Regions from separate parts of the Homo sapiens genome. Here all the other regions are reported to be linked to region 2. Evidence: microRNA targets listed by miRTarBase, many of them from high-throughput screens and not tested one by one. Region 2 holds a microRNA gene; each other region holds the end of a gene's coding sequence. Distances are between the middles of the regions.
What was found. Region 2 holds the annotated microRNA hsa-miR-4652-3p (GUUCUGUUAACCCAUCCCCUCA, at 2,505-2,526, shown strand). A microRNA usually pairs through its seed, bases 2 to 8, with sites in the 3' UTR of a target mRNA and lowers its output. Matches are read on the target gene's strand: a 7mer-m8 pairs with bases 2 to 8, a 7mer-A1 pairs with bases 2 to 7 and ends in A, and an 8mer does both.

Region 1 (5,242 bases), not on the chromosome of region 2:
TTCTGGTTTTCATGATGACCTGGGGCCCAGGCATACTACACTTGTGCTGTTCAGGGGCCAGTCCTGCACCAGGAGCCCATCAGCCACAGCTCCGCCGAGAAGCACTGATATGCAGAGCTAAGCAGCTTTGTTTCCACGTGGATCCTGCGTAGGTTTTCTTGGTCCATCCGTAGACACCGCACTCCTGCAGAGGATCTTCTCGGGATGCCCCACTGTCTCTGTTTTCCCTCTTCACTGAACACTCAGTCGGGGCTCGCCATGATGCCTCTGTGTCTGCTGGCTTCTCCCCCATTGGAACAGCCTTCTTGGCACGCCACACTGCTAGCTGCTGGGCACTGTGCTTTCTGCCTTTACCGTTCTGCCGTGATGTTGCCAAAATAGCAGCAACAACAACAACAACAAAGGCTGGGCACCTGGCTCATGCCTGTATTCCCAGCAGTTCGAGATCAGCCTGGGCAACATGGTGAGACCCTATCTCTACAAAAATAAAAAATGAAATGAGCTGGGTGGGGTGGCGCATGCATGCCTGTGGTCCCAGCTACTTGGGAGGCTGAGGTCGGAAGATCGCTGGAGCTTAACCTTGAGGTCAAGGTTGCAGTGAGCCGAGATTACATCACTGCACTCCAGCGTGGGAGACAGAGACCCTGTATTAACAAACAAAAACACAAACCACAAAGGGCAGGTCTGAAACTGCCATTTAAAAAAAAATTTAATAAACTTAAAAAAATATATATCCACAGATGCAGGTGAAGAACCTGTTGTCTTCCTCAAGCCTCTTTTTCACCCATGGGTGGAAATGGTGCCCTGGACACCCAGGCCCACGAGGTCTTTGCGTGGGGTCCCTACACAGGGCTTTAGCTTACACTGTGCTGCCCTCCTGTCCCCCGAGTTCCCAGTCTGTCAAAATCCAACCTGGTCTCCCAGGCCCAGGGCAAATGCCACCTCCTCCATGAAGCCTGCCACATCCTTTGCACACCCTTGGGCGCTGACCTTGTTCTCCCAGCGCACAGGCACGGGTACAGTTTGCCCCTGTAGTAGTAACTCAGGCACAAAACGAACTCTTGCTGAGGCTCGGCCGCGCAGAGCTGAGGGTTGCCGCTTCCAGGTTCAAGTGCATTTTGAGTTTCATTCCCAGCTTCCTTCTTTTTCTGGTCTTTAATTTCTTCTCCGGATTAGGTCCCACTCAATGCTTTCCTTCTCAATTTCCAAAAGAGTATGGTCAGAGCCAGCAGCACACCACCTTCCCCATGGGTGGGGGGGGGCCAGCCTGTGGCGGGGGTGCGGGTCCCATCTTTTCGAAGGAATTGACCCACAGTGGGCGGGTCCACCTTTGACCTTGCCCCAGGGAGCGCAGACAGAAAAAAGATCCTTGCTTAGTTTGAGGGGCCGCTGGGGTGCTCGGTTTGTCTTCAGAGGCCTGTCTGTAACACCAATGCCAACCCGGTGGCACTGACTGGTCACCCTGAAGGCCACGGCCAGTGTCCTAGGAAGGGACTCAATTTCTAGCTGTGCCACCTGAGATTCTGGGGTTAGGCTGGTTGTGCTTCTGAAGTTCCACTGTGCTCAAAGTGCTTGGTGAAAGTTAGCGAAGGTGATTTTACAAAAATAGATGCATAAAATGTCTAGGAAACACAAAAAATCCTCATTACTCTTCTCTCCAAATATTTTTTAAGCCCCAACTGGACCCTAGGCAAAAGTGAGTGGCACTCCTCTGCCAGGACTCCAGGCAAGCCCCGGCATCTTCTTGCTGCCGTCCCAGACAACAGAAGTTACCAGATGAACAGACTTGGATGGGCCACGGGGGTGGAGAGCTGGAAAGCTTGGCTGTGCCTCTCGATGATGATTAAGATTTCAATATTTACAGCAAAACCACAAAGCAAATGATAGAATAAAGCAAAACAATGGAAAATCTGAGTTCACTCGTGAGAGAGGTACGTATGTGAGCTCTGAGGAAATTACAGAGGGAACGCATGCAGCGGGACAGCTCTCCCAATCGCAGCGTGCAAAGTAGACATCCATAGTGTCTTTTGAAAAATGAAAAACACATTACTTTGAACAGCCAAGAAAAAAATTGCAATTTATTAAGATTCAATAAAGCGTTGTACTTTCGAAAGCAACTTTCGATGCATGTTCTTCAACAGTCACATTCTATGAGGAAAACATTAAGAGCCACGAACTTGTTGTTTAATCTCAGAGTTACAGACATATTAAGTTCAAAATAAAAGGTAAAAAAAACAAAAAACAAACAAACAAAAAACCCCTCAAACCCAACAAAACCCAAAAACAAACAAACATATTCTTGACTTCCATCCCCAATTTTAAAACAACAGTTTTTCTACAACTCAATGCTCGCCGGCAGCACGGGAAGTGGTATGTCGGACGCACATACGCACACGCATGCTCACACGCACACATATTGGATATACATACGCAGGTGTATGTCCATCGAATATATAGAACGCATGTAATGGCAATGAGATGCAGTCACTCTGAGGAAGGTTGGTTTTTCTAAATATCCTACTAAACTTGAGAAAAAAAGTCTTGAACCCAGTTTGTGCATAGTTCATGATCCTCTATAAAACCAGCTTTTGTGGATCTGCAGTCTTGCAGGACTTTTTTTTTTTTTTTTGTATTTTTTTTGTTTTGATAAAACCATTAAAAAGCTAATTAAAAAAATGTAATGCACAAGTTTCCTGATCAAGCAGGCAGGGAGCACAATGTTCATATATATATTTTTTAAAACATACTTGAAGGTATGTTATTCCATTGTCTTTCTTCCTTGCAAAACAATCAAAACATTGATCATTTTTAAAACATAAAGCAATTTTTAATATATAAAGCACTCTTCAAACATCTATTTCTTTTGAGTCCATTATTTGGTAAATATGTAACTGCTACACATTAGAGATTAGGTATTTTTCTTCTTTGTGTTTTTTTTTCCTCTTTTTCTTTTTTTTCATTTTTTTGTTTTGTTTTGTTTTTTTTTTTTTTAAATAACATCTTCAGTGCTAGGAGTTGGGTTTAAAAATACATGAAATGGTGTGGAGCTGCCCTCGGGAGCCCTGGCTTTCCTGAGAGCGCGTCCGGCATGTGCAAGACAGTGGCCACAACGCCTGTCACCTTGACGAAGGGGCGAAAGCAATCGACAGAGTCCACGACGATGGCCGAGGGAACAACACTGTCCCGTCCCAGAGCTCTGAAGGAACGCATCTGCATTCTGAAAATAGGTTTCTTTACGACGGAAGTCTTTTTTTTTTTTTAATTCCTTTTTAAATTTTTAAAATTTTAAAGTCTGAAGGAGAAAAAAAGGTCTGTAAACAGGTGGGAGCCCAAACCCCAGGCTCCCCCAAAAGCAGTCACAACCCACGCCCAAGTGCTTGTTTCTGTTCCTTCCACGGAACCATCCATTCTTTACAAGTATCTATGGCCACAGTTCAACAACAGTTTTTTTTTTTTTTCTCTTTAACTTTATATTCCAAATGGAAAAATGGTGCAATACTCTGGTAATAATTTTCTTGCATTAGTCCACAATAAAAAGCTGCTAAAGGTAGGTATACATGTTATTTCTCCAGAGATATACACTGTACTTTTTAAACGCAGTCACAGAGTCCTTGAGTAAACATTTACACATGAATTGTCGCCAGCCCTGTCCTAGGAATTCTCTGTAATGTATAGGATTAGCTAAAGGAAGGGCGAGGACACTCAGTGCAAAGTTAGAAGCTAATAATAACAACCGTTTGACCAATGCGCCAAAAAAAAAGCGTATACTGAATACAAGGGAAAACCCACAGTTAAATCCTCACACGCTTTCAAACACACAAACACAGAAAACTGCACGCCGTGCAGGAGCACGCGCCACACATGCACACACACACACACTTCTGTTTCAACACGCACACATACACACACGTAGGCTATGAACTTAGAAATTTTTCCTAGAGCCTGTTTCTGTGTACTGATGTCAACCTGGAAGTGTAGAATTAGAAAGTGTTCACATTTCACTATTGGCCTGCTGGATTCAAGTATTTGCATGTTTGATATGTCTTTTTTTAACTTTTAAAAAATATTTTTTGGGATAAAAAAATGACATGAAAAAGTAATGAAACAAGGGTAATGTGCATAGGCGGATCCAGGGGAACAGAGAGCAGATCGCAGCCCGCGCCTTCCGCTCAGCTCCCGCCGCGGAGCCGCTCTGCGCCCGGCGGTCCACACCAGACTCTGCCCTGATTACCGGCCGCCTCTGGTCATGTGCATAATCGTCACAGGCTCATTTTAAATAGGCTTCACGTCTCCCTCCCTCCCCCACAGATAAAATAACCCTTTCCAGCCCACAATCTGAAAAGTGCCCTTCATGATAGAACTATTCTAAGCAGCTTTTATACTTAAAAAAAAAAAAAAAATCAAAATGACAACACACTATACAAACATAAGACGCACAAAATAAAAAGCTACGAGGAACATCCTGTCATTAGCATGTGACGCTGACCCACCGCAGCCCGCACTGTTTTGCGAACAGTTCGCAAGGACTGCGGCCAAGGTTCGTCTTCAGTCCTGGACAGAGGTACTCAAAAGGGCGGCCGCTGCTGGGTTCCAGCGGGTCTGTGGGGCCGCCCAGCCGGGAGGGGTCCCGGGAGGGGTCGGCTCTCCTGGTGCTGATGATGGCAGAGCCTACAGGGACTCCCCGCTGAGCAGGTCCCCAGGCAGCAGGGTGGTTAGCGGCGTGGGGCTGCCTATCACCCTGCTGTCGTCGGCGCTGGGCGGGCCCCACAGGCTGCTGGAGTACTGGGGCACCCCGCCCCACAGCAGCTCACTGCTCCCCTTGCCACCCAGGCACGGGGCGTTCCAGTGGCCAGCGTCGCTGCGTACCAGGCCATGGGAGCTGCCCGCTGCGCTGAGCCGCGGCTGGCTGGACGCGCTGCTGGACTGCCAGCTGGAAGTGGGTGGCAGCGCCTGGCCTTGGGCTAAGAAGCGATTCACTTCTTCTTCACCAGCGAACTCGGCCAGGATGGTAGTGTTTCCCAGGACGCACCTGCAACAGCAAGATGGGGCACGTGAACAGGGCCACCCCAAGTCCTGCTGAGTTCGTGGCACTGGCTTTCTCTGTATTGGGAACGGCCCCACATGGAAGCCATCCTGTGGCTTCTGTTTTGCCACTGCTATTTCCAAACCCAGACTGTGAATGTTTTGCTCAGTTCAGACTTCTAGTGGCAACATCGTACTGGTACACAGAGTACATCTTCAA
Region 2 (5,242 bases):
TGAAAGATACTGAACATTGTTGAAATGAAAACAAATGATTTAAAATATTATGCAAACTTAGTTGATAAAGCAGCAGCAGGGTTTGAGAAGTTTGACTCCAGTTTGAAAGAAGTTCTACTGTGGGTAAAATGCTATCAAACAATATCACATGCCATAAAGAAATCTTTCATGAAAGGATGCATCAGTTGATGTAGCAAACTTCATTGCTGTCTTATTTTAAGAAATTTCCATAGCCATCAGAACCTTCAGCAATCACCAGCCTGATCAGTCCGCAGCCATCAACATTGAGGCAAGACCCTCCACCAGCCAAAAGATTATGAGTCACAGAAGGCTTAGATGATCATCAGCATTTTTTTAGCAGCAAAGTATTTTTAAATTAAAGTATATATTTTTTAGACATAATGCTATTTCACACTTAATAGACTAAAGTATAGTGTAAATATAACCTTTTTATGCACTTTGGAAACCAAAAACCTCATGAGACTTGCTTTATTGCAATATTCACTTTGTTGCATTTGTCTGGAACCAACCCACTAATACCTCTGAGGTATGCCTGTATTGTGTCTAATTTATTTTCTTATTACTTATCAAATTTTCCACAACAAGCATGCTTCTCCTTGCGTAATCAGAAAAGAAGTTATTACATTTTTTAGAAATGAAATCATTTAAATAATGAAAGAAGAATCACCCAATTTTATTTCAGAAATAAAACAGGAAGGGAAATTAAAGAGTAAAGGGAAAAGAAAAAATATTTTCTTGGGGTAAGGGTTGTAAGAGAAAAGGAAAGGTTTGTGCATATGTGAAAAAAGATTACTCAAAGTAGTATCAACCCAATTGTAGGTGTTAAGAGTTCAAAGATAGGAAGCTTTCTAGGGCATCAAAAACCCTCTAAAGATTTCGGAACTGCGGGAGGTAACATCTATCAAGAGAATTCGCCAGGGTGGCCGCCAGGGGTCTCCTGTGGACCAGGAAGCCTTGACCTAGGATAAGTCCATGGTTTATGAAGAGAGAAGGAGCCTGTCTTCATGGAAAGAGGGGAATGAAAAAGAAAGTCTTGTCCATATTTACGCGGCATAATCTTACATCCTAGAATCAATGAATGCTAGACCAGAAAGGAACTTGATGGATTTTCCAGCTTGGACCTCATTTTAAGATTAGGAAATTTAAACCCAGAGAGGTAGTGAGGACTAACCTGAAGTTACACAGCTGGTGAGACACACAGTTGGATAATACTACAGATATCATGGATGACTTTTATACCATCTTACACTGTTAAAAACTCAGAGACAATCAGTACATAGAATTGCCGCACTGCAACCACAAAGTGATTCAGGTGTTGAAAGTACTGATCTTTGGTATTATTTTCACATCATAGTAATGGCATATAATGTTTGGAAACATATTATATGCCTATTATAACTACTTCATATTATAATGTAGAACTTAGCTCAATTTTAATGTTCAAGAACTGTCAAATAAATGTCCATTATTCATTGTTTGACAGTTATGAATACTTTCTTTTCCCTTTCCTGGCTTAGACATCTTCAAGAATTAATCATTACACTCAGCTTTGTTGGTAGTGAAAAGAAAACAAGTGAAAATCTCAAAATATACCACTTTAAATATGCCATCCCTGTTAAATGTCCACATTTACACACCTGCATTGTGTGCAACTCTTTGGATTCTGTCCTCTGCCTGCATCGGGCTTCCTATATCCTTATCGCTTTCAGCCTCTCCTTTCTCCCATCTCAAAGATTTATCCGTACCTCCCTACTGGTGTCCCCTGGATCCTCATTGCCCAGCTTCCTCCTCCCTTGTCAGATGTAGCCTCTTTACTGTCATTCATTTGTACATCCATCCAATCCACAAATATTTCTTGAACTCCAGCTATATGCAAGCTCTTGTGCAAGAAGCTGTGGGATTACACAAAGCTGTGGGGTATTGTCAGAGATGCTTCTTCCCCACCTCCAATTCAACTTTACACCTCACAGGGTAAGCTGTAACAATTACAGATTGCTTTGCGGCCAGGTGCAGTGGCTCAGGCCTGTTGTAATCATAGCATTTGGGAGATCAAGGTGGGAATATCCCTTGAGCTCAGAACTTGATGACCAACCTGGGCAACATAGACTGTCTTTACTAAAAATTAGCTAGGTGTGATGGCACACATCTGTAATCCCAGCTACCCAGGAAGGAGGCTGAGGTGGGAGGATCGCTTGAGCCTGGACATCCAAGCCTCAGTGAGCCATGATCACACCACTGTACTCCTGGACAACTGAGAAAGACTCTCTCTCTCTCTCTCTATCTATCTATCTATATATGCATATATATAATATTATATATATAATACTTTAGATAACTAAGTTACATACTATATATATAACTATGCAAAAGTTGGTCAGACTGGAGTAGTGATGAGAGTGATAATGGCCAACAGTGATTCAGAATCGTTTGACTCTATTGGACGAGGGGACTGGTTAATAGAACTAACTAACCAGAACTATTTTGTTCTGTTAACCCATCCCCTCATCTAATAGAGTATAAACCTCAATATAAGCTCAACTAGGCTGAGTAAGGCCAAACAAGCAGTCCCCTAGTGTCAGACCAGAGAGAAAAAGTGATGAGAATTTTAAAAATCTTTGCAATCAATGTCAGTGGTGGTTGAGAAGACCTTCTGAAGGGAGACTATGTGATGAAGGATTACGAAGTGAAAGAAATGGTCAGCATATTGTTTCCATTGAAAAGACAGAAAATCTTAAATCCAAGGTCATGTTCCTGGCCTTGCTACTGACCTGTAGGCAACAACTCACTGAGTTTCAGACAGCAAGTCTCTCTTCTAACAAACAGCTGACAACACCTCCTCTTAAGTATTACCCAACCTCTGGCCCCAAAGCACTCCTCAGTCCTCCAGTGCTACAATAAGTCATAATGATTACTCAAATGAAATAGAGATCTTTATGAATGAATAAGTTGCGGTGGTATGAGTTTTGAAACCACATCCCAAACCACATAGTAGAGAACAACAAAATCAGGTCAACCCAGGTGCACTAAAGAGAACTTGCAAAGCCCTTAAACCTAGGAAAAGGAGGGAAGGAGAGGAGGAGAACAGGGAATAAGGGAGGAAGGGAATGAGGAGAGAGAGGAATGAAAGAAGGAAGGAACAAAGAAAGGGAGGGAGGGAACCAAAAGAAAGAGAAAGAAAAAGAAGGAAGAAATGGGGAGAAATGGGGAGAGAGAGAAAGAAAGAGAAAGAAAAGGAGGAAGGAAGGATGGAAGGAAGGAAAAGAAGGGAAGGAGGGAGGGAGGAAGGGAGGGGGGAATAGAGAGAGAGGGAGAGAGAGGAAGGGAGTGAGGGAAAGATGGAGAGAGGGAGGAAGGGAGGGAGGAAAGTTGAAAGCTTGTAGTATTTGCTGATTTTCATGGTGTATTTCCATCATATCCAATTTGTTGAATATGGAGTTCAGAAATGCTACCTGCAATTGCCTCTTGAGAGCAGGTTTGAGCTGGTGCCCACACCACTGTCTATCACTTTAGCCCTGTGAGTAACTGTCACTCATCTGTAAAATGGTGATAGCAATTTTGGCGTTGCCATTTCAAAAGACAACTGAGGAATTATTTGCCAGGGAAAAATATTTTTGATAACTAAGTTACATACCTTATAACAAAATTATAGCTGAATTAAATATTAGAGACTGAAAAAAATTAAGATAAATTATTCATGAATGTTACATAGTTTTTCAGCAAAATAACTTCCTATGAGTGATAACAAGAAAGCTATAAAGGAAAAGATTGAGGTATTGTATGGAATGAAAAGAAATTCTACTTTATGGCAAAAATATTATAAGCAGAGTTAAGGTTCATAGATACTTCTGCAGAAATTAAGAAAATAACATTAATGATTTTATACTATAATATTCCTCATGATTTCTGCTTTCTTTTGTATGCATGGTTATTATGTAATTCATACAATACAGTTTGAGGTCAGCAGACATTATAATCATCAGATGTCAAACTGCACAATCTGAGTCTCAGAGCTGAGTTGCCCAGCTTCTAAGTGTTATTTTTAGGGAAAATAGGAAATAATTGCTATTTCTGGATTAATCACTATGTCTAGGCTTGCAGTGATAAAAACAGAGGATAAACTGAGCCAATTTCTTTTGTTACTCAATTTGAATATCACTGAGGAATCCTAATAACTTGGAAGAGGGTCCATGCTAAATAAGAATTACGCGGGTGATGAAATCTGTGTGCTGGCAAGGAGTCACTAATCATTACCAAGCATTTACTGTCATCACTTTGGTTCTTTCTTTAATTTTCTGATGTTGAATTATTGTCTTAAATAATCGAATTGAATCATCCAGTGAAGGTATGGAAAAGATTTATCATTATGACATAGTAGTGCTATGTTTCCAATGGGTGTGACATTTCAATATTTGCTTTATTCAGTAATTTTTTTTACTATGTACAAATGTACAGGGATATTTAATTAATCGATGTGATAGAATGACATATTTCCCACAAATTACCGTAAGCAAGCAAGCAAGGAAAACAAACTCACAAATTATTTCCTAAATTGGGATAATATAATTAAAATTAACTTTACAATATAATATATTTCCTCACTAGAACAAAAACATAACAAAATTTAAAAACTCTTCGAGCATAATAAAGGACTTAAAAATACACATTTAAAAAAAAATTTAAGTAACTATCAGAAGGAAAGAAAGAAAATAATAATCTGCCACCAGGAGACTGCAACATTTCAGTGACTTTTTCCACCTCTCCTTCCTCCAAAACTAAAGATTATCTTCTCCCTTCTCAGCAACAGGCGTTTGAGAAAGGAGAATTCTAAAAATGAGGCTAGGAAGCAAGTCTAGCTTAGAAAAGGAGAGGAGGTGGGGGAAATTTTGGTGAATGGAAGAGTTAAGAGGAGTGAGGCAATAAGGATGACTAGATATGGGGAGAAAGTAATAGAGTGTGGGGTTGGAGTACGTATCCTGGCAGGCAAAGGAACTACCACATGGATATATGATGGTTAAAGCCATGAGGCTTCGTGCTAGTGGATGATGAGCATTGATGAGTTATCCCAATTGGGGTTCCAAAATTAACAGTGCACACTCCTTCTCCTTTTCCTCTCTTCATTTTTTACATGAATCTGATTACTCCTTCCTCAGGGTTCTATGTGTGAGAGAGACAAGTCTTTTCCCACTCCTATCCACTGACTCATCTCCAACTGCAGACCAGT
Region 3 (5,242 bases), not on the chromosome of region 2:
TTTATGTTATAGATAAAATCCTAAAGTAATAAACTATTTTTCTAAGAATATTGTGTTATCAAATAAATATTTAGCATTATATATAATATAAAATTCTTTGCCTTTATATGAGAAGATATAATTAATCTATTCGCATTCTTGTATAATTGTAAATAGCTGCATCTACATGGGTAAATTCAATTTTTCAAAAAGGAAGGATGGGAGCTGGAAGAAAATTATGTTTGTTCAGCAACTACTATATGTGGGTCTTTTTATAAATTTCTCATTTGGACATAAAATTGTTTCATCTTAAGACATTATTAAGTCCATGAATAAAATACTTTCTTGAAAATTTTACCTTCTAAGATGAAGTATTTCATTTCTGCGACATCCATAATTTAATTTTAGCCTATGTTGATACATCCATATGCAATTTCAATGTGAGTGACTAAGTATTAATGCTTCAAAGGGTAAATAAACAGATGCAAATATTTTCTCTCTAAAGATAAATAAATAATGCTAACAAACTTATTGTTAAAAATATATCCAGATACAAAGTTTGTTGAATAAGCACATTATGTGATAATGATTATGAGTATGAGCATGAAAAAACTTCATGGGGGATTTAAGTTGAATGTTTACCTTATTTTCTGTGAAAAACAACATTGGGAACCTCATAAATAATTATAATATGCTATTCCAATATTTCCTAAATTAACTAATGGAAAATATTATTTCTACTTCTTGAACTGTACATATTTTCGTCAGTGATAATCTTATTGCCAAAAATAAAGGTTGATTTATTATTCGAAATAAAAAATATATATAAATGGAATAATGAAGACCCAAGAAACACCATAGTAATTTGCTTGATTTTCAAAAGTTATCTGTTGTCTTTGTCTTACAACTGGCAAAATTTAATTTCAACAATATCTAGAATGTATTTATTGTTTAGAAAAACAATACAGAACAGATTAAGAATATTTCATGTGTGTGTATAAAAAGAATTGTTTTGACATGAATTAAAGTAAATTATACAGTATAGTTTATTATATTTAGATTTTATATTCAAGGTAAAATAGTTTGAATTGAACTTAATTACTGACTGTAAATAAGACAGCATCATTTGAGTATCTCAAATCTAAGCAAAATATACTAGTAATGATGTTAATTGTAGTTTTTTTCTTTTAATAAAGCAGACTGTCATGCTAATTAAAAGGCACAGATACATCTTAATTATTTAAAATAAGAAGCATAAACAAAGATATGATCATAAAGTTACAATTAATTGTTGGCACACAAATAAATAATTTGATTAATAAAATCTATTTATATAAATATTTAATTCAAAGACTAAGATCCATATGAAGTGTGCTGGATCAAATAGCCTTTGAAAAATGCTTTTATAGTTATTAATATTAAAAATAAAAGAAAACAAGAAACATTAATGTTAGACATTAGTATCAATAGAATGGCAATGTCTTAGCCCACAAAAATAATAAATAAATCTTTAAAAATACAATTCTTAAATTCCTTTGACAATCATTGTAAAATATGTTGACACATTAATTTGTGTCAAAATTCTGATATTACTCTTTCCTCTTATATGTTGTTGAATACAGATTGTCACTGCCTAATTGCACCTAACCTATCAAGAAATACCAAGTTTTAGGTGATATCTTTGCCTCTTGGTTTAAAATATCATAGGGTTCAAATTATTTTAACAGTACTTATATTCAGTCAATTCTTTTGACACTTTATACTAATATTTAAGAGTACTCTCAGACAATAAAAATAACATTTATATGGTTATATGTATATGTTTGTTTAATCTAGAATAAGAATGAAACAGGTTATTTCAGTTCTACTCATATTTTACAATTTACTACAAGCCATCTTTTATTTTGAAATTTTTATAAATCATTTGGAGCATTCCATTGAAATATTAAAAAAAATACTTTATCACAGTATTGCCTTGCTTCAGCATGGCATGGATTTCAAGGACAAGAGGTAAGGACCACCCGGGCAACTGAAACAGTGCACTTGAAATAGTCTGAATATAATTAGCTTCAGATTATCTGTTAATTTCAGATCATTACTCCACATGAGTGGCAGGAAATTTAACATCATATATATATATGTATATATATGTGTATATATATATATGTGTATATATATATGAAATATATGTCAATTTCTTTACAAGGAAAATCCGAATAAATGAGAGAAACAGAAATGTCACATTGAGAAAACACAAAAATAGTTTGTTATTTATTATGATTTCTGCACTCTTGAAGTAAAGCACGAATATAACAATAGTAAACATGCGAAATGACTTTCTCAGTCATCGTATTTCTTTCACCATCATTAGTTTAAAACCATGTGGCCCTATTTAGAAATAATTAGCATTCATGGCTATTGCTTCATGGACACTTTACTAAGCTTGTACACTTTGCACAAACAAACTAATTCAAGTATTTTGACTAGTTTTAGTACACTGGTACAAAACAAAACAAACAACAAAATAAAACACAGCAAAATAAAGCAAACTGGATGATCAGACAAACATAAACTAAATATGAACAGTCAAATCTGTCAAAGACCAGTTGGATAATCAAGTCAGTTAAAATGACCTAACTGCTTTGTTTGTTTAGACACTACTCAAATTCTTAGGTAGGCACAAGAATTCTGTTCTTTTCTTCAGAATACGCCAGACAGGAACGCAAGGAGAGATTCCCGCATTTAACCCTGCAACTTATGGCAAAGACACTGCGACGATTTGGTGCCTTCAAACGAAGATGGTCATATTCTGTCCTGCTGTAGCCAGAAAAGTGATGAATTATATAAAAGTACTTAGTTTTCTCTCCTTGGCTGAGTTTCAAGCACTTTGTAAATAAAAATATTCATGAGTTGCCTTAATTTTACATTTAATAATCATCAGGTTATCTCTACAGAGAGACACACCCAGAGCAGGTTTCTGCAATGTTAAAATTGCTCCAATATTCCTTTGGAACGCATTCCCTGTCCTGTCACTATTTGAGCTATAATACCACCTGAAACACCAAAGGTTCTGAATGTTACAGGGCCTAAGGAAACCTTTGGCTCTCAAGGTTAATAAACCTGCTCCCAAATGGTATGTATGTTTATAATGATAAATACTTTTTTAAACCTTACATATAAGTTAAATCATGTGTCACTCTATTACCTCTGGGAGCTTGCATAGCTTGGAAGTAAAGAAGCATTTTATTCTGGTATAACCCTAACAAAAGATATTAGAAAGTTTGTGTTGAATACTTAAGGAATTTCTTCAACCAAAGTTGTTTATCAAAATCTTAAAATGACTTCTAGCTAGAACATCCGGAATAGAACACATAGTGGCATTTAATTATTTATCATTTACTCTTTTATGGCACATTAAAATGTTAAATAATTTCTTCTTAATTTAGTCAACCTTAAAATTTTTATTAGCCAATTATATTTAATGGTGAACCTATAACAGTGGTAAAATTAGTTCTTAAAGATTATATAAAACCATGGGCTAAAAATATATCTGAGGATATGATTTGAAGTATTTGAACACTAAAGACTTGTTTTTTGATAAATTATTTTAAAAATAAATGATAATCACATATTTATAAATATATCAAGACACCATATTGATATTGTTCCCATTTCAATTTACTTTATTTGAAGCTGAGGGCAGAAATCAATATTATTTCACTTGCAATACACTTTTTTTTGTATAATCCATTGTGAATGAATAGGACATATATAAAGAGATAGAGATTTAGAAAGTCTTTCTAATCTAATTTTATATACAACTAATATTCTTTCAAATGGGTAACAATTTTGATCTGGCACTTCAGTCTATCAAAAATCAATGTTGAAAATGCACTGAATCATAACTTGAAATGAGTTCTCCAAAGTTTTCAATTTTTAATATCTGCTAAAGATAACTGGCTCTTTGACGCCTACGTTCCCTGAAATTCCCCTGATAAAATGAGTAACCATTATTAAGCTCCTTCATCTTGAAGTTGAAAGCCACTTTAAGAATCTATTTGCCCAGAATAGGACTCATACACATGCAGGGCCTTCTTACACATGTAGCTCACGTTTTTTTTCCTTAACCCCTATATTTGTTGGTGGTATTAAATATAGTTCTTAATAAATAGAGCACTTTAGCCACATAATAAATTCCAGTACTTCAGTCATAGAATCAAATTGAATACCAAAGTGTTGGTGCCAGTCAGTCTTGATATTGAAATTCTTAACAAAATTAACAACAACAGCAACAACAACAACAATAACAAAAGGGAATGGATCATGGGCAGGAGTATTTGATCATATGTATATGTGTACAAGCTATTCCAAGCTAGAAGTTTCCCAAGAAATTAAGGTCAATGGAATAGTTTTGGTCATAGGGTCACGCAATCCAAATACTCTTCGTAGTGTTGTTCAAGCCCCTGTAATATTGTTGTTATGCTTTGCTGTCGTCTTCTTTTGATTGAATGATGTCGTTAGAAACTTTAATTTCTATAGTTTCTGGATTTAGAGCTTCTTTCCCATCTTCTTCCTTTAAAGGCAATTTTCTGGAAGATAAAAAATAATAAGCTTCATTTTCTGAGGTATTTAAGGAGACGTACCTTAACCTTTAAGTTACTGTTTTGTAAGGAAAATATGCTCCAATAATATGCTAACATTTTATATATGCTAAATAAGTTACTATTTTATAGAGAAAACGTGCTACAATAATTAGAAAGGAAAAATTAAATTTATTAACATAATATAAAATAGATTTAAAAAGATCTAAAAGAGAGTAAAAACAATTACTTGGCCTTTTAAAAATGTAATGCAGAATGATGAATGAAACAATATATTTGTAGATATAGATGCACCAAATTGCTCACTATAGGGTGGCTTAGATTTGGTAACTAGTTGTTGATCTCCAAAATATAATTACATGTTATGGAAGGTAAAATGCCAAAATATTTTTAAATGTCAATGATATGATTTATTAGCACTACGTTTTCTCCAGTGAAAACAATTAATAATTGTTGCCATATTCTGTTACATAAAATTCAGAAACCAGGCTGGGCGTGGTGGCTCATGCTTGTAATCCTAGCACTTTGGGATGCTGAGGCGGGTGGATCACTTGAGGTCAGGAGTTCAAGACCAGCCTGGCCAAAACGGTGAAACCAGGTATCTACTAAAATTACAAAAATTAGACGGAAATCACTTGAACCGGGAGGTGGAGATTGCAGTG
Region 4 (5,242 bases), not on the chromosome of region 2:
ACAAGAAAAAAGGGATGAGTCCTAAATAATCCACAGCTGCTGTTATGGTAGAACCAGCTCTGCAGGAAATTTTTTTTTTAAAAGACAAAATTTCTTAGGGAAAATCATGCATTTCATGTTGGTTAATTTCCAGCAAATACGAAGTTTGACAAAAGAAAAATATTTAGCTAGACTTACATGGCAAAGAGGAAGGTAAACTCATTTTCTTGAGATCGTGCCTATTCCTCTTTTTGCTGTCTCTGTACTCAGAATACACTTTACTTTTCTACCATTAACACTTTGCTGCCTTCTTGAAGAACAGGGCATGCCGCATCTCTGAAGCCACAAGCCAAGCAAGCATAGTACCTGGTACAAGTATAGGCCGAAATATTTGCTGGATATTAGAGTATATGGAAACATAATGAAAGCTTGTCATCATTGACATTTAAATGTGAAACTGTCACCATCAATTTGGACAATTAGAATCCATCTCATCTCGTTTACATGGCAATTCTTCAATATTCTTCACAGAATAAGTAGCCTTTAAAAGTGTGTTCAAATTACTTCTTACTCAAGAGCAAGCAAAATGACATTTTAATTACATTATACATTCTATAATTCTTTATACTAACTAAAGACAAATTGAAAATAATCATATTCTGAAAAGGAAAAACTCCACGTCCGTATAGTTGGCAAAAGATCAGCACAATACTAAGGGTACATGACAAGAGTTTATGGAAAACTGGTATTAGAAAAGAAAGGTTAATCAGATATTCAGATACATGAAATCAGTCTGTAAGTGGGTGGATGGATGTGTGGAAAACCCTTTAAGATTCTGCAAAGGATGAACTTGATATTAAAGAAGAGAGTTAATTTTTACGGTAAAAAGTTGTATCAGTAGAATTATGTGATACAGAAAAAGTCATTTTGAGAGAAGAGAGTCATTTTTAGAATAAAAGGTTAAAATTTGGAAACTCCTGTTCTTCTGTATGTTACATGGTTTTCCACACTGGCATTTTTCATGAATATGGATTATAGTTGGGAAAACCTTACTATCTGATTTGGTATTTAGTTACACACCCCATGTAAATATTGCCTATTATATTCACCAGCCCTCAGTTATTCCAAGTGCCCACTCCTAATTATCCATCGATAGCAAAGAAAATATTGTGACAAAACAAGTTTTATTTTGCAAAACATAATGTGATATGAACTCCACTACAAAATACGGGAACACATTATTTTTAAATTATATAATCCAGCAGAAGAGAAACAGAGTGAATGGAGGTCTAGGGACTGAAAGGATCTCTTGTGGCAAAGGGGAAGAAGACAAAAATACATCACCCAAGATGTGGTAAAGGGGACCAAGAACCACTGAAAAAGTAGTGCAATATGTCTAGGAATAGAAGAAACAGACTGTGTATATATATATATTTGCCTTGTCAATAACATGCATCATTCAAACAATCTCTAATAAAATCTTAGTGAATTAATCTAATGAAAATATTCACACAGTATTATGTAGGCAAATATGTTTAAAAAAATATTTTAATAAGCATATTCAGAATGGCAGACAAGGAATGGGAGAAGGGAATTATTTTACAGTGCAAAATTACTATGCATAAATTTAACATCTAATTTGAAATTTTAAATGCCTATTTAAATATTACTTCAAATACATTTTAAAGCTCAACAAACTTGTGTTGAACTGAATTGCAGATCCTGAACTCTATTTGAAAATACATCATGAAACAGAAAATACCCATTCCAAATGAAAATGATAGTGCTTTGTTGGGGGTGGGAATGAGGCGGGGAGACTAAATCACTATTAACAGACTTCTTTTTCCAATGCAATTTGTCAAAAGTTCAAAAGTTCTGAAATGTACTAAATCTTAAGCAAATTAAATTCATGATATTACTAAAACTTTTTAAATAGTGCAATGACTTATCAAGTTATAGTGGCTGCATTAAGAACAAATTATTGTGTGAAATACCTGTATAAACACAAAATACAATTAAATATTTCTTTACAAAAAGCTGAGCATTACGCATAATAGTGGAATGTCTTTCATTAGGTGTATTTTTTAAAGATTAACAAAAGTAACATTTCCTAAAATGTATACATGTGCCATATTTTTGCAAACATGCCTGAGAATGTATTTAAAACATTTCTGTAGTAAGAGTTTGCAAGAACTTCACAAACCTGCAAATAAAATGCATCTTTTTAAAAAGGTGAAAATGGCATCTCCAACACTGCAACAATTCAAAAAGTACAGCATCCCTAATCTTTAAAAACATTTCTACAGACCATCTTTGACAAAGAGCTAGGATACTTTGGATTCATTTAATAAAAAATGATTTAGAAAACAGATTGTGACCATCTGCTTGCTAAAGCTACTGCCATTCTGGATAAATTAAAAGTTTTAAGTAAAACAAAAACAACAAAAAACTCATACTTCTCAACACTTCCACCCAAAACTTTGATTTACTTAGATATGTATGTAACAACAGTGAATGTACATTAAGATGAAGTCAAGTGTTGCAAAGTGGCTTTTAACACTGTTTGGGAAAAAAAGTTGTTCACATTGGTGAAGGGAAGCAGTCCGAACATATGTTAACAGTAATACTTCATGGGGGTAAGGCCTGAATGCTAATTTCTCAGTGCAAACCTTCACTCAATTACATCAGACAGTTGAGCCATTAAAAACAAGACCACAGAAGCTTTATTTTAAAAAGGCATTGGCTCTTGAACTGATGGCTGAAAAATGAACTGGAAGAAGCATTTGGAGTATGCCTGTGTGAGAAAAACAAGAATAATTAATATTTTATAAAAGTTTGGATATAGGTTGGTCTATCAGCTATATAAAACTACATTATTTAACAAGAATTTAGCACTAAAAATAAAATGGCACTTTTACAAGGCTATGCAGATGGATAATCCTATCTGTAATCACACAGAGCAATGATTATTGTGTATCTTATTTTCACTTTGGAAAAGCATTATCAAATCTGAAAAATTGGATTGTAACTAGAAAAGTTTGAAAAGTTTTCAAACTTCACTTTCTCTTCATAAAATCGATACTGCCTGCCAACAGTTGTTCCTTGTGTGTGCCAATATCTAAGTATCACTTGACCCCCCTCCTCTGTTTATTTAATGCAGAAATGGGAAATTTTATGATGCATATAAAAATAACAGGATTCTGGTCAGCATGATATATTTAAGCACTTAAGCTGACATTAAACTTTTGTCTTGCTTCAAAAATAATTTTGAAAATTATAGCAAATGCAAAACAAACTGCAATCTAAGCATCATGCTTAATTTCAGAATTCTCAAATTACTTGCCCTTAAGTAGAAATTTAAAAAAAAAAAAAAAAAAAAAAATTTTATAATCCTTTATGAATGCTTTAACCACCTGGATAAGAAATATGACTTAATTACTACACAAACACTTAAAAATTCATTAGAAAAACCTTAGCAAAATAAAATGAAAGCTGACAGACTCAGAATAACAATTCCTCTCATAAAAGTTTACCAACTGTACAAGTTAAGAAAATTATACACGCTTTTGTATTAAGAAAGGACAGCTCAGTCAAGACATATGTACTGTAAAAATCTTTCAAAGGCTACAAAGAATCTGGAAAAATACAGAATGTATTTCTTAAGCCCAGATAAGAATATGGAAAGACATCATTGATGTCAACAATTTTACATATACAAACCTGACCTGGTTTATTTTTAAACTTCTATATATAAAAAAATCATGCTAGCATAATTTTCAGGATTCGTAAGGGTTTCCTTAATAAAGATACTCAAACTGTTTGGTGAGAAAAATGTCTGTTTTAAAGACATTTCAAGAAACTCAGAGAAATTGGTATTAAGCAGAAATTTGGACTTGAGTTTCCCATTCATCCATCAAACTAAGCAAAAATTACCTTGTAGTGAAATTTTATGATTAATACATCAAATGAGAAGGTACAGATACATCTTTAGTTCATTCAGATTTACCAAAATTAGTAAATCTGAATGAACTAAAGATATTCAAATGAGAAGGTAGAGATATATCTTTAGTTCATTCAAATTTACTAATTTTTAAAATACCCTTAAAAGAGTCTGACAGCTTTAAAGTAAAAAAATCTGCAAAAGGCAGAATTATGAAACCTCATTTCCTAAAGTTAAGACTCAATTCAAATTTTCAAACTGCTTCAAGGAAATCAACTTTTTAAGGTAACCCATCAACCCTGAAAATTTTAGTCACACCAGAATTTACTCCAAAGAAAGTAAAATAGGTCTAAAATTTAGTCATCTGTGTTTTCAAGTTCTTCAAATTTCCCATGTGAGACTGCTTCTTGGAAAAATTCAGAAGAACCTGGACTTTCTTTTCCATTGCTGTTTACCCTTCGCCTTTTGGCAGGTCTCTCACTTTTTTCATCAAAATCATTTTCATTTCTTGCAGTCATATGGGCAAGTTTTGGGTCAGTGGTAAGGTTATCTGTTTCATAACCATTAGTATCCATATCTGCATGAAGTGGTTTCTTATTTCCACCTGTTGGTCCATTAATGTGTAACCCTTCAACTTTTACTTCCTCTTTGTTTAATATTTCACCTGGTCCATTAGATGACACTCCTAAGTTGAAAGAAATATAAATGAAACCACAATTAGAAAAAAGTTAAATTTGCAAACTATTATAAAACAGCTTGTAGTTATTGTTATCAAGGAAGCAAGGTATCAAATACATAGTCTAAATTCTTGCTCTATTACTTATAAGCTATGTCGCCTTAGGCAAATTATTTACTCTTTCTGTATCTCCATTTCATTACATATATACAATGAAGATCATAATAGATATTCCTCACAGGGTTGTTGTGAAAATTAAATAAGTTAATAAATGTAAAGAACTAAGAACAGAATTTGGCATATGTTAAAAGCATATTAGGTATATGTGACAGCAAACAAGCACTGGATCCAGCAGTCTAACTAAGCTGAATTAATGGAAAATGCAGTAAATTACTCAGATTTAACAAAAGGTTTTCAACATTCTAAAACCACGTAAAAGCAAGATGAATGCTCTTTCTTTAAAAAGCTTGAGTAAACTGCCATATAAAAGCAAGATGTCATGACTTTTTTATTCTTAATGTAAATCTATGGGAACTGTACTTTAAAAGATCACACAAGGCTGGGTGCAGTGGCTCACGCCTGTATTCCCAGCACTTTGGGAGGCCAAGGCGGGTGTATCATGAGGTCAGGAGTTCAAGACCAGCCTG
Region 5 (5,242 bases), 64 Mb from region 2:
GCCTGTAGTCCCCACTACTCCGGAGGCTGAGGCAGGAGAATCGCTTGAACCCAGGAGGCAGAAGTTGCAGTCAGCCGAATCACACCACTGCACTCCAGCCTGGGCCACAGAGCAAGACTCTGTCTCAAAACAAAAACAAAAACAAAAAAACATGATGGGGAGGGGGTGCAGATACACAAGAGGGGCGGGCGCTGTGCACCTCTGGGCCAGGGAGAGGGATTCATTTCTACAGTTACCTGTTCCAAGCACACAATTTGGACATTAAGATTTTTCATAATAAAAGGTAAAAGCGTACAGAGACCTAATACACGTGACGACTAAATGCAATGTGTAGTCTTGACTGAAGTCTAGTTTAAAAACATCACAGCCCGGGGAGACTGATTTGAGTAACAATAAAACTCCAGTCTCCTGCAAAAAAAAAAAAAAAAAAAACAAACAAAAAAATTACGGGCCAGGCACAGTGGCTCACGCCTGTAATCTCAATACTTTGGGAGGCTGAGGCAGGCAGATTGCTTGAGCCCAGGAGTTTGAGACCAGCCTGGATGATATGGTGAAATCCTGTCTCTATAAAAAATTTAAAAATTAGCCAGGCATGGTGGTACAGCTGTAGCCCCAGCATGTTGGGAGGCTGAGGTGGGAGGATCGCTTGAGCCCAGGAGATCAAGGTACAGTGTGCTATGATTGAACCACTGCACTCCAGCCTGGGTGCCAAAGTGAGACTCTGCCTCAAAAAAGAAAAGAATAAAAGTAAATAGTTTCTGAAAATGGACTGAGAAGTAGCTGGCATGGGGGAATTACTAATTTTCTGAGGTGTGATAACGGTGCCACGGCTCTCCCGCCTAGGTGACGGAGTGAGACTCCATTGCAAAAAAACAAACAAACAAAAACAAAACAAAATGTGTTAAACACAGGTGTGGTTATTCACGTCATGGTCCCACTTTTCCAGGCCTATGAACAAAAGAGCAGAGAGCTCTCCCTGGTGACGGCGCCACGTCCTGGTTCTGTCTCCAGCTGTGCAACCCACATGAGGGAAGGCACGTGGGACCCCCAGGTTAGGGTTAGGGTGTGAACGTTTCAGGATGTTTAAATGTATTTACTTACAGAAAGTGGGTTCTGCAGCCCTTTATGCCCCTGACAAAAGTGAATGGCGTACAGGGTGGCCCTGGGATTGGCAGTGGGGTGGCCAGGAAGCCCCACTGTGGTCCTGACACCCCCAGGACTCCCCACCCCAGTCCCACAACTGCAGTCCCTGCCACACCGTCCACAGCCCCCCTGCCTCCCACCCACCAGCACCTCACTGCCTTCCCCACCCCCCGCAGGGCCCCCCAGTGCTTGGGACGTCACAAAGGTGACGACGACAGGTGCCGCGCTCCCCCTTGCCATCATCTCAGCAGCTGCCGAGCACACCCAGGGGCCGGGCTCCCTCTCCACCCCCTCAGCAGACGCTGGCATAAGCAGCCGCGGGCTCTATCTGCAGCATCCACCCCCTCAGCAGACGCTGGCATAAGCAGCCGCGGGCTCTATCTGCAGCACAGAGCTCCTGGACCCGCCCTAGGGGGATGGGGCGCTGGGCGCAGGGGTCGGGTAGACCCCAATACCCCTCCTCACCTGAGAAGCAGATGCCTACCTGCTGGCCATGCACCTGCCGGGCCCCATGGACACCAGCTCCCTTCTCCTCCTGGGGTCGGGGTCTCTCCCTCTCAGCGAAGGGAGGACCCACCTGTGACATGAGCTGACTCGGTAGCCAGGCCGTGTGAAGACGGGGCTCTGGCCCCTTTGCCAAGAGCCTGTCTTGTGTGTGGCCTGGCTTGTCTGGAAGGCGCTCGCGGCTCTGTCCACGCTCCCTAGCTGTGCCCCTGCTGAGGCAGCCCGGCCACGCTCCTGGGACGGCCTGAGGGTCAAGTGGGCAGGGTTGAGGGCACAACAGTCACCTCTAAACCTGTCGAACCACCTGCCTCCCTCGCCACAATCTCAGCAGCAGATTCTGGGATCTGAGCAGTTGAGAAGGACTAATCTTGTTTTAAAAACACCCCCGACCCCGGCCCGCAAGGCGACTTACTGCACCGCCTTCCCCTGTCACCAGGAAGGCCGGACGCCAGGATGTCAGCACTGAGCGCGTGTCTGGCCCAGTCTTGGTCGCCAGCAGAGCCAGGGTGAGTCGACGAGGTTTTCCTCTCGGGACCCTCAATGCCTCCTGTGAAGGCTGCGGGAGTTTCCACCTCATCTGTGCGTTGGGGTGTTACTTTTTTGTTGTTGTTGTTGTTTTGAGATAGAGTCTCGCTCTCTCTAGAGTGCCGTGACGCAATCTGGACTCATTGAAAGCTCTGCCTCCCGGGTTCACGCCATTCTCCTGCCTCAGCCTCCCAAGGAGCTGGGACTACAGGCACCCGCCACCACGCCCGGCTAATTTTTTGTATTTTTTAGTAGAGACGGGGTTTCACCGTGTTAGCCAGGATGGTCTGGATCTCCTGACCTCGTGATCCACCCGCCTCGGCCTCCCAAAGTGCTGGGATTACAGGCGTGAGCCACCGTGCCCGGCCTTTTTTTTTTGAGACGGAGTCTCGTTCTGTCTCCCGGCTAGAGTGCAGTGGTGCGATCTTGGCTCACTGCAAGCTCCGCCTCCCTCGTTCAAGAAATTCTCGTGCCTCAGCCTCCCGAATAGCTGGGATTGTAGGCGTGTGCCACCACACCCGGCTAATTTTTTGTATTTTTAGTAGAGATGGGGTTTCACCATGTTGGCCAGGCTAGTCTTGAACTCCTGATCTCAGGTGATCTGCCCACCTTGGCCTCCCACAGTGCTGGGATTACAGGCGTGAGCCACTTTGCCCAGCCGGGGGTGTTAGCTTTAAAGTCATGTTTTCGCCTTACAGTGACGCATTTCGGAAGCAAGGCTTCTGCCTGCAAAACACCACTTTCATCCTTTGTAATCGTAATGTTGAAGAATTGCTTTTATTTCTAGTCAGTCTTAACGGTGCAACTTACTGGCGCTTACAAAGGACAGCAGGCGAGCTGTATTCAATATGCTTATGTTTTATTTATGTAGGTGGCATTTAAAATACATGATGTGTTTAGGGTTACATTGTCCACAGAAAGCATCAAATACCACTCCTCTCCCCGCCAAAACCAAATAAACAAAGCCAACTCTTTGGCAACAGTTGTGTTAAATAAAATCCCAGGTCACACTTGTTTCTGGCTCCCAAGCCTGGGTCACTGCTACATGGATTGCGCCAAAAAATTCCCAGCTTCAACACTGCTAGATTAAAATTGCTGGCATTTTTAAATCACAGCAAAGCTTTTCACAATGCCCTCAAGTCCAAGAGGACAAAGGAGAAAGCAACATGAACGGCAGATCCTCATGTGAAAGGGAAGGAAAGTCACTGGGAGGGAGCATGCAGGGAAGAAGTCAAGGCAGCCCTGGAATTCTACTCCGTGCTCAATAAAAACAAAACGTGAAGAAGCAATACATCATGCAAACGAAATAATGACCGGAAGTGGGCGCATCTAGTTAGAATGAAGTGACTTTCGTAAGGAGTCAATGTTCGCGAACTGAAACATGAGTTCAACCTCCTTGTGCCGTCTCTGGGTGTTTTGCGCGTGTGTAAATACCGGCCCGTTTTCCCCAGCATGGCCCTAACCCATGGACACTAGGGAGAGTGCCACTGAGCAAAAATTTTTTGCTAAAAATAATTAGCAAAAATCCAAGAAAAAAATATGGAATCTAGCAAAACCTACACCATATTTGAAGTTGAATTTGCACTACCTGCAAAGGATGAAAATTAAAAGAGTAAACAGAAGGAATGATTTTACATCTGATGTGATTCACGACAGCCTTCTATTCGTGTGGCCGGATTGCTCTGAGGAAAAGGTGCCCTGACGGGCAGGATTCAATGTGTCACTTGCAATATTCTCTAAGTTACACTCTACTGAATTACCTTCTAATTCCAAACACTACGCCGCCACAGAAAGCCTCATTTCATGAATGTTACTCAGTTAGCCATCTGCGCCCTCCTGTACTTCTAAAGCCAGAAATATTCCAGCAGCATGCGGAGTGGTTGAGTAGCCGAAAAGAATGAAGAGGATCCGGAAGCACTAGAGGAAAATGCAGCAGATTGAGAGCTGGAGAGAAGCAGAGAGTCGCGGCCAAGTCCCAAACGTCTGTCCCCGCCACCCGTGCCGTCAGCCCCGTCTCCTGACCCTGCTCTGACTGATCCGTGATCGCATAATCCTGCCGAGCGAGTGTGGCCTCGAGACAGTCCTGACCGACGCTGCTACCTAGCGCGTGTGCACGACCGCATGCCGAGCACGGTGGAGCGCCAGCGTCTGGGGGTGCACCGCGTGCCTCAAGTCCGGTCTAGTGATTGCCTTTGGTCGACTTCTTCTTCTTCGACTCCTCTCTCTGCTTCTGCTTCTTCCTCTTGCCACCTTCTTTCAATCCTAAGGAAACACGGCTTGTAAAACACTGTACGGAACAGCACTGCTTCCCCAGCAAGAGCCAAACATGTTTTCTAAATATCTCCCCATGTTAAGAACAAAAAGCAACAAAATGAAGTCATCTATCTTGGCCACAGCTAAACCTCAAAACGGGCGCTTTCCAAGGTGCACGTTGAGAACTGCTCACACTACCCAGAGAGCTTCACCACCCTGCAGAGAAGTGAGGACTCCCACCTACCCGAGTTCCGCCCAGCGGCAGAGCTAAAAGCCCACCCTGGGACTACCCCAGTTCTGCCCAGCGGCAGAGCTAGAAGCCCACCCTGGGCACGGCTGCACCTCAGTCCTGGAACCCCACCCTGGGACCTACCCCAGTTCCGCCCAGCGGCAGAGCTAGAAGCCCACCCTGGACACGGCTGCACCTCAGTCCCGGAACCCCACCCTGGGCTCTCCTTCAGAACGCACACTGGGCCTGCGCAAAGGTGTGCCCACCTGTGGGGAGGGTGTCCACAGGTGTCTCCTCCGCTTCCCCCGCTGGCCACAGTGCAGCCTTTCTGCAGGCAAAGCCTTGGTGTGGACTGGCCTCATGTTTGCCAGCTCTGTGCCATCCAGCGTGAGAAAGTCCCATTTCTTATTGAGGAAAGTCTTTCATTTCCCTGTTGCTAAAGTCAATGGCTGACACTGACTGATCCAGCTGAAGTGCATGGAGAAAGACGCCCACCCTCTGAACGTCTGATCCAACGTGCCAGAAATAAACACCTCTGGATTCATTTCTGCAGAAACTGTCTTGAACTCAGTGTGTGCCAACGTGGGT
Region 6 (5,231 bases), not on the chromosome of region 2:
CCAGTCCGCGCCCGGGTCGCTGGTGCGCGCTCCCCTCGGCGCCCGTCCCCGATGACGCTGAGGCCCTGGGGCGCTGTGGCCGCGTCCCCTCCCCCTCCCCTCTCTCACGCCGGACCCGGCCGGTACCCGGCCTCCCCTCCCCCTCCCTTCGCGCCCACTTGTTGCCGTCCGGCCCGAGCCGTGCTCGTTCCGCCGGCTGAGTGTAAAAGGGTTTGACTTGCGGCTGACCCCGGGTCAGCACTTTCTCTCCACTAATCCTGCTCTCCTTCTACACAAAACCCTCGGCCCCGTCCCTCGCAGCACTCATCTTAATCTCCACCCGCCCCCCGCCGGCGGCTGACACCGGCGCGGACCTGAGGGAGATGGGCTCCCAGGGCGCCCGGGGACCCCTGCGCCCTCCCGCCCCGAGGCTGCGGGGACGGGGCCGAGGCAATGAGGGGACTAGTAGGGGGAGCGCGGGCCGCCCCGAGACTCGTGCCCCATCCCGCCCCGACCTCCGACTGGGCGCCCAAGGGCCGGAGAGGGACGGAGAGGGGAGCCGCGCGCGGGCCTCGGCGGGGGAGCTTCAAAGACAAAGAGGAGGCCGGGCCGCGCTGAGAGAGGCCGGCGGCGGAGACGCAGCTCGGTGCGGGAGTCAGAGGGCGGTGGAGACGGCACAGGGACTGGAGAGGCGGTGGGAGTGGATGGCGGGGGCGGGGAGGGAACGCCGTGTGCCGGGACCCCAAGGACAGCGGCGCGGTGTGCGGGGCTCAGCCGCGGGCAGAGCCGGAGAAAGGGCGACTTGGAGAGGCGCAGGCAGGGGGGTGCGCCCGGGAGGCCCGAGGCCCCGAGGAGGCCCGGCCACCCCCGCCCGGAGGGGACACGTCCGGACCAGCCGCAGACGCCGCTCGGCTCCCGGGGGCGGGAGGAGCGTGGTCCCGGCGGGCGCGCAGCTGGAGAGGAAGGGCCGGGGAGGGAGGAGGGAGAGAGGGAGGGAAGAACGGGGGAGGCGGGGAGGAAGAGGGAGGAGGAGAGCTCGCCCTCAGGCAAGGGGAGGTGATCCCGAGGCCTGGCTCGGGCGGGAGCAGAGGACTGGGTGAGGGGTCCCTGCGTCCCCACCTCCCGGCCTGGGCCTCCACGCGAGCCCCCCCGCCGGCCCTCGCTCCGTCCTGACGCCGCCCCACCCCGCCGGATACTGGGGGCCCGCACCCCGCTCACTTTTCCCCATCTGGCCTGGCCTTTCAGTCTCGCCAGATAGTCACGCTGGAAAGAGAGCCGCGCCAAGGCCAAGTCTGCTTTTCACTTGAAGTTTCCAAGGACTCAGACCGGGGGTTAAATTCTGCCGCCGACGCCTCTGGAGCCGCTGCCCCCGGGCCCAGGCCGAGCGTGGGTGGGGAGGGGGCGGGAGTCGGCCGGAGCCCGACGGGGTCGAGGGGGCGCTGGAGTCCGGGCTGGCCTGAAGCGAGCCTTCGGGGGGGGGCGGGCACACGTCCGGGGATGGGTTTCTTGAATTAACTGGAATTTTCCGGAGACAGAAATCTGCGGCGCCCAGTCTTTGCCGGGGGAATGAAACGCGGGAGCATGAGTGCCGTTCTCCCACACGCGTGATTTTAATAGACCTATCAGTCACGCTCCCGACGCGCATCTGGAGATCACGCTGTGCCCGAGTCTTCTTTAAAACTAATCCATCTAGTACGTTACGGGTGGGTTTCTCCGGGGAAGGGGACGTCAAAATCTCAACAACAAAAGGGGCGGGTGAGTTGAAAAACAAAACAAGGCAAAAACAGAACAAAACAAAGCAAAAAAACCCTCAAGTAAACCCTCCTACCCTCAGTTTGGAGGGCAGGGCCCGAGCGCAATGGCAGATTTACGAAGTCACACTGTCGCCCCCGCAGAAACTGATGCAAACTTTGCACTAGGCCTCAAAGACTCCTATCCGCCTTCCCTACACGGGTTGCAAACATAATTGGACTAAGCGACAGAAGCACCACCCTGTGATTTGGGAAGTGAATGAAGTCGTCATATAATATAATAACTATCATCATATAGTATTTCACTCCGTGAATACGATGAGTGTTACCTTGGCCAAGCACCGAATTCACAGTCGGCTCAGGGCCTACTGTAATCTTTTCTCCACTAATTTGAATTGGAGCGACACTGCTGGGGGCGGGGAAGGGGGGATAGAATCTCAATCCTGAGATGAATCTCAGCTAATTTCCTTGCCCCCACCCTGTGATATTTTTAAATGGAGTCATTAAAAATTTATATTTGCTTTTTTCTGTGTTGTTCTAATCAACAAAACAAGGAAATAAGGTGGTTGGAGCACCTGGCATTGGCTATTTCAGCTGACTGTGCACGAAGCACCTGCAATAAGATGCCAAACTGTAAAAGCTGCTTGCCTGGCGTCCCGGGCGCACTAACTCAGCTTTTCATAGTCTGTGCCTCTAAAGTGGGGCCCACATCCTAATCTTGAGCCAAGACCTAGATGCCAACAATTGGACACAGAAACTCCAGGGTACACACAGGGGAGCACAGGGGCCAGACTGAGAGTGGACGTCAGTCAAAGAACCTCAGAGAGAGTCCTTTAAGTTTGTATATTTCAGAGAAAACCCTCAAGGTCCCATTGGACCCTCAAGGTCCCGGTGAGTTAACAGAACAAGCATTATAAAATTTCCCAAATCATCTCCCGGAGAGGACTGGGGAGGCCCTTATCCCGGACTAAGTCGTAGTGGTGCTCAGCCATCCATGGGCGCACAGACTCTTCCAGAAACAACTGCTTCAGAAAGGATCAAATAGCTAAAAGAAATAAAAATAAAGAAAAAGAAAAGAGGGGGGGGGTTTATTATCTTGTTAGAAAGCAGTGGACATCATTCTTGAACTTTTTTGTAATCACTTTAACGAATGAGTGGTTTAAGCAAAATTATCAAAATGACTTCCCAAATTACACGTCAATTGTCAGATCAGCATTATACTTAAAGCTATTCTCGAATGCAGGCTGAATTCGGTTCTCATTAAACTTATAGCATAGGCTCACTTTTGGACGGACAGTCCATACTCCAGGACAAGGAAGGGTGTTGAGAAAGCGAGGGGAAACCTAAGGCTGCTGAAATAAACGTATTTCCATCTGGGCTTCAAGTGTTTTTTTTTTCCAAAAATATAATTTCATCTTAACGTTGTGATTAATTTTTAAATGTATTTGCTACAGTATAATTTTTAAATGCAATATTTAATGCTGTCAGATTACTTGAAGACAAAGTTTTACAGAAATTTTTAAATTTCAAAAAAAAAACTGCAATGTACCAATAAACACCTAGAAAATAATATAATTAAAAAATTTAAAGCATCAAACAACCTCAAGATCTCGTCAGGAATAATGAACAAGGCATTTTGCGTTCACATCGGTTAGCAACTTGCATCCCAGTTCACGCGGGGGAGGGTGATGGTCGATATTTCTGTGTGTGTGAGAATCCAGCACAATTATTTTGCCCGTTTTCCCAAGAGAAAGAAGCCAGGGGGAGGGGCAGAGGATGGACGGAGGGGGCTCGGCTGCAGTACGTTTTGGTTCAGCGATTGTGTTTCCTTGAAACACATTTAGATAAATTCTGCTCGAAATCTTAATTGCTGGGGAATTGGGAAACCCGTGACCTGCCCTGGTCTTTGTCCTTCATCCATGGCCTGGTCCAGGGTCCCACCACTGGGGTCTTCCCTTCCTCCTCCCTCCTCTGGACCAAACTGTGGCGCAGACCCCCAGCCAGGTGGAAGGCGCCCCGCTTGCAGCAAGGTAACGCGCAGCAGCCCCAGCCGTCCGCAGTGAAACAGCCGGAGCAGAAGATACTTTTATTTCTCGGCCCGTATTAACACTCAGCTCTACAAAATAACCTATAGGTTTTAACTTCCTTCTCTTTCATTGAAAAAGGTTCCTTGAAAAATCCTGTCCTCCCATTCCCCGGGGTTCCCTTACTTTTAGTTCATACAGATAATTTCCCTGTCAGATTTCCTCATTGCATTTTGAACTCATAAAACATGCACATAAAAATAGCATGTTACAAATTTATGGAGAAAATGGGCTCTGTCTCTTAAATTTGTTGACTCGAAACATTTTGGGTGGGGGGTCTTTTTTCGTTTTTAGAAGAAAGGCTTTTTAGAAAACTATGTACATAATCTGACTTCTCCTCCCCGCATTGCAACGCCGAAAATAAAATTTTTCACAATGCATTTACAAGAAATAATACAAAACCCAAAAAAAAAAATGGAAATGCTCAGATACATAAAGTTTTACAAAACCCAGAATATAACTCCGCCGTCTGAAGGAGGGGGTGGTGGTGGTAATCTCTTTGTATAAATTAACAAACCAACCCAAAAGAGCGGTAACAACTACAAAAAACTTGTAAGTGCTTGGACCTGCCTTACTACATTTATAACAAATGCGACGAGCTCCGCGTCACTTGGGCTCCGGCGGTCGGCGCCGTCCGGAAGCAACGCGGAGGAAAGTGAGCGCGCCGGCCGGTATACAAAAGTGGGCTTCGCCTCTCGCCTCGTTTTGACTTTTTTGTCCCCTCGAGCAAAGAAAACGCTTTCCGCTTCCTCCGTAGGTGATAAATACTGTACAAAAAGTCTCAAGAAAACACCGAAGTTCAGTCTAAAACCCAAGTCTGGTGTCAGCGCCCGGCGGTCGCCAGGGTCTCCGGGGAAGGTGAGTGGGGGACACGCGTCACCCGGCGTTCGTCTCCAGTATTTTCCTTTTGACAAGAATGTGGGAACGTCTGTACAAAAGCCACGCCGCGCCGGGGCGGGGCGGGAGCCGGGCGCGGGCCGCGAGCTCGTGGGTCGCCGCCGCAGAGTCCCCGGCGTCCCGAAGGCGCTAGATGTGCGTCAGGGGCACCGTGCCGTTCACGCCCGCGCCCGCGCCCTGGTAGTGCTGCGGCAGCGAGTGCAGCCGGCTCTGCGCCGCGGCCGCTGCTGCCGCCGCCGGGTCGCCCCCCTCGCCGGCGGGCAAGTACATGCTGATCATCTCGCGCAGGTCCCCGGGGCACGGCGCCCGCGAGTGCGCTGGGGCGGGCGGGCTGCCGCTGGGCTCCGACTTCACCAGAGAGCCCAGCGCGCCCAGGGCGCCCGACGACGCGGCCGCCGCCGCCGCCGCCGCCGCCACGGCCGAGTTCTGGTGCGCGCCGCCCGCAGCGGCGGCGGCGGCGGCCGCGGCGCCGTAGGGGAGGCCGCCGTAGCCCGAGGGCGACGCGCTCATGTAGCCCTGC

Region 1: the mRNA of TNRC6C is a reported target of hsa-miR-4652-3p. Seed matches in the 3' UTR shown: 7mer-A1 at 3,946-3,952, 7mer-m8 at 3,880-3,886 and 8mer at 3,381-3,388.
Region 3: miRTarBase lists NCAM2 as a target of hsa-miR-4652-3p. Seed matches in the 3' UTR shown: 7mer-m8 at 2,666-2,672 and 7mer-A1 at 627-633.
Region 4: miRTarBase lists MIER1 as a target of hsa-miR-4652-3p. Seed matches in the 3' UTR shown: 7mer-A1 at 2,148-2,154.
Region 5: the mRNA of DNAJB6 is a reported target of hsa-miR-4652-3p. The part of its 3' UTR that is shown has no 7-base or 8-base seed match.
Region 6: the mRNA of SOX1 is a reported target of hsa-miR-4652-3p. Seed matches in the 3' UTR shown: 7mer-A1 at 3,429-3,435 and 7mer-A1 at 2,255-2,261.

Annotation. Positions count from the first base shown.
Region 1 is chr17:78,104,272-78,109,513 of GRCh38, reverse strand. It overlaps TNRC6C (trinucleotide repeat containing adaptor 6C), which reads right to left. Exons shown (of 23, transcript NM_001142640.2): 23 at 692-5,029. The coding sequence ends at 4,669. TMC6 (transmembrane channel like 6) reads left to right here. Exons shown (of 20, transcript NM_001127198.5): 20 at 1-2,117. Among named protein-coding and RNA genes, the nearest start is that of TMC6, 22 kb to the left of the region's middle.
Region 2 is chr7:93,714,473-93,719,714 of GRCh38, forward strand. It overlaps MIR4652 (microRNA 4652), which reads left to right and starts at 2,456; the gene lies at 2,456-2,533.
Region 3 is chr21:21,537,172-21,542,413 of GRCh38, reverse strand. It overlaps NCAM2 (neural cell adhesion molecule 2), which reads right to left. Exons shown (of 18, transcript NM_004540.5): 18 at 1-4,568. The coding sequence ends at 4,457. Among named protein-coding and RNA genes, the nearest start is that of LINC00317, 200 kb to the left of the region's middle.
Region 4 is chr1:66,983,934-66,989,175 of GRCh38, reverse strand. It overlaps MIER1 (MIER1 transcriptional regulator), which reads right to left. Exons shown (of 14, transcript NM_001077700.3): 14 at 557-4,604. The coding sequence ends at 4,276. It also overlaps a transcript of SLC35D1 not described here. Among named protein-coding and RNA genes, the nearest start is that of MIER1, 62 kb to the right of the region's middle. RefSeq lists silencers at 4,403-4,603, 4,591-4,640.
Region 5 is chr7:157,415,208-157,420,449 of GRCh38, reverse strand. It overlaps DNAJB6 (DnaJ heat shock protein family (Hsp40) member B6), which reads right to left. Exons shown (of 10, transcript NM_058246.4): 10 at 3,011-4,434. The coding sequence ends at 4,352. Among named protein-coding and RNA genes, the nearest start is that of DNAJB6, 81 kb to the right of the region's middle.
Region 6 is chr13:112,068,444-112,073,674 of GRCh38, reverse strand. SOX1 (SRY-box transcription factor 1) reads right to left here. Exons shown (of 1, transcript NM_005986.3): 1 at 1,969-5,231. The coding sequence ends at 4,841. All of the region lies in intron 1 of SOX1-OT (SOX1 overlapping transcript), which reads right to left. Among named protein-coding and RNA genes, the nearest start is that of SOX1, 3.9 kb to the right of the region's middle. RefSeq lists an enhancer at 1-131.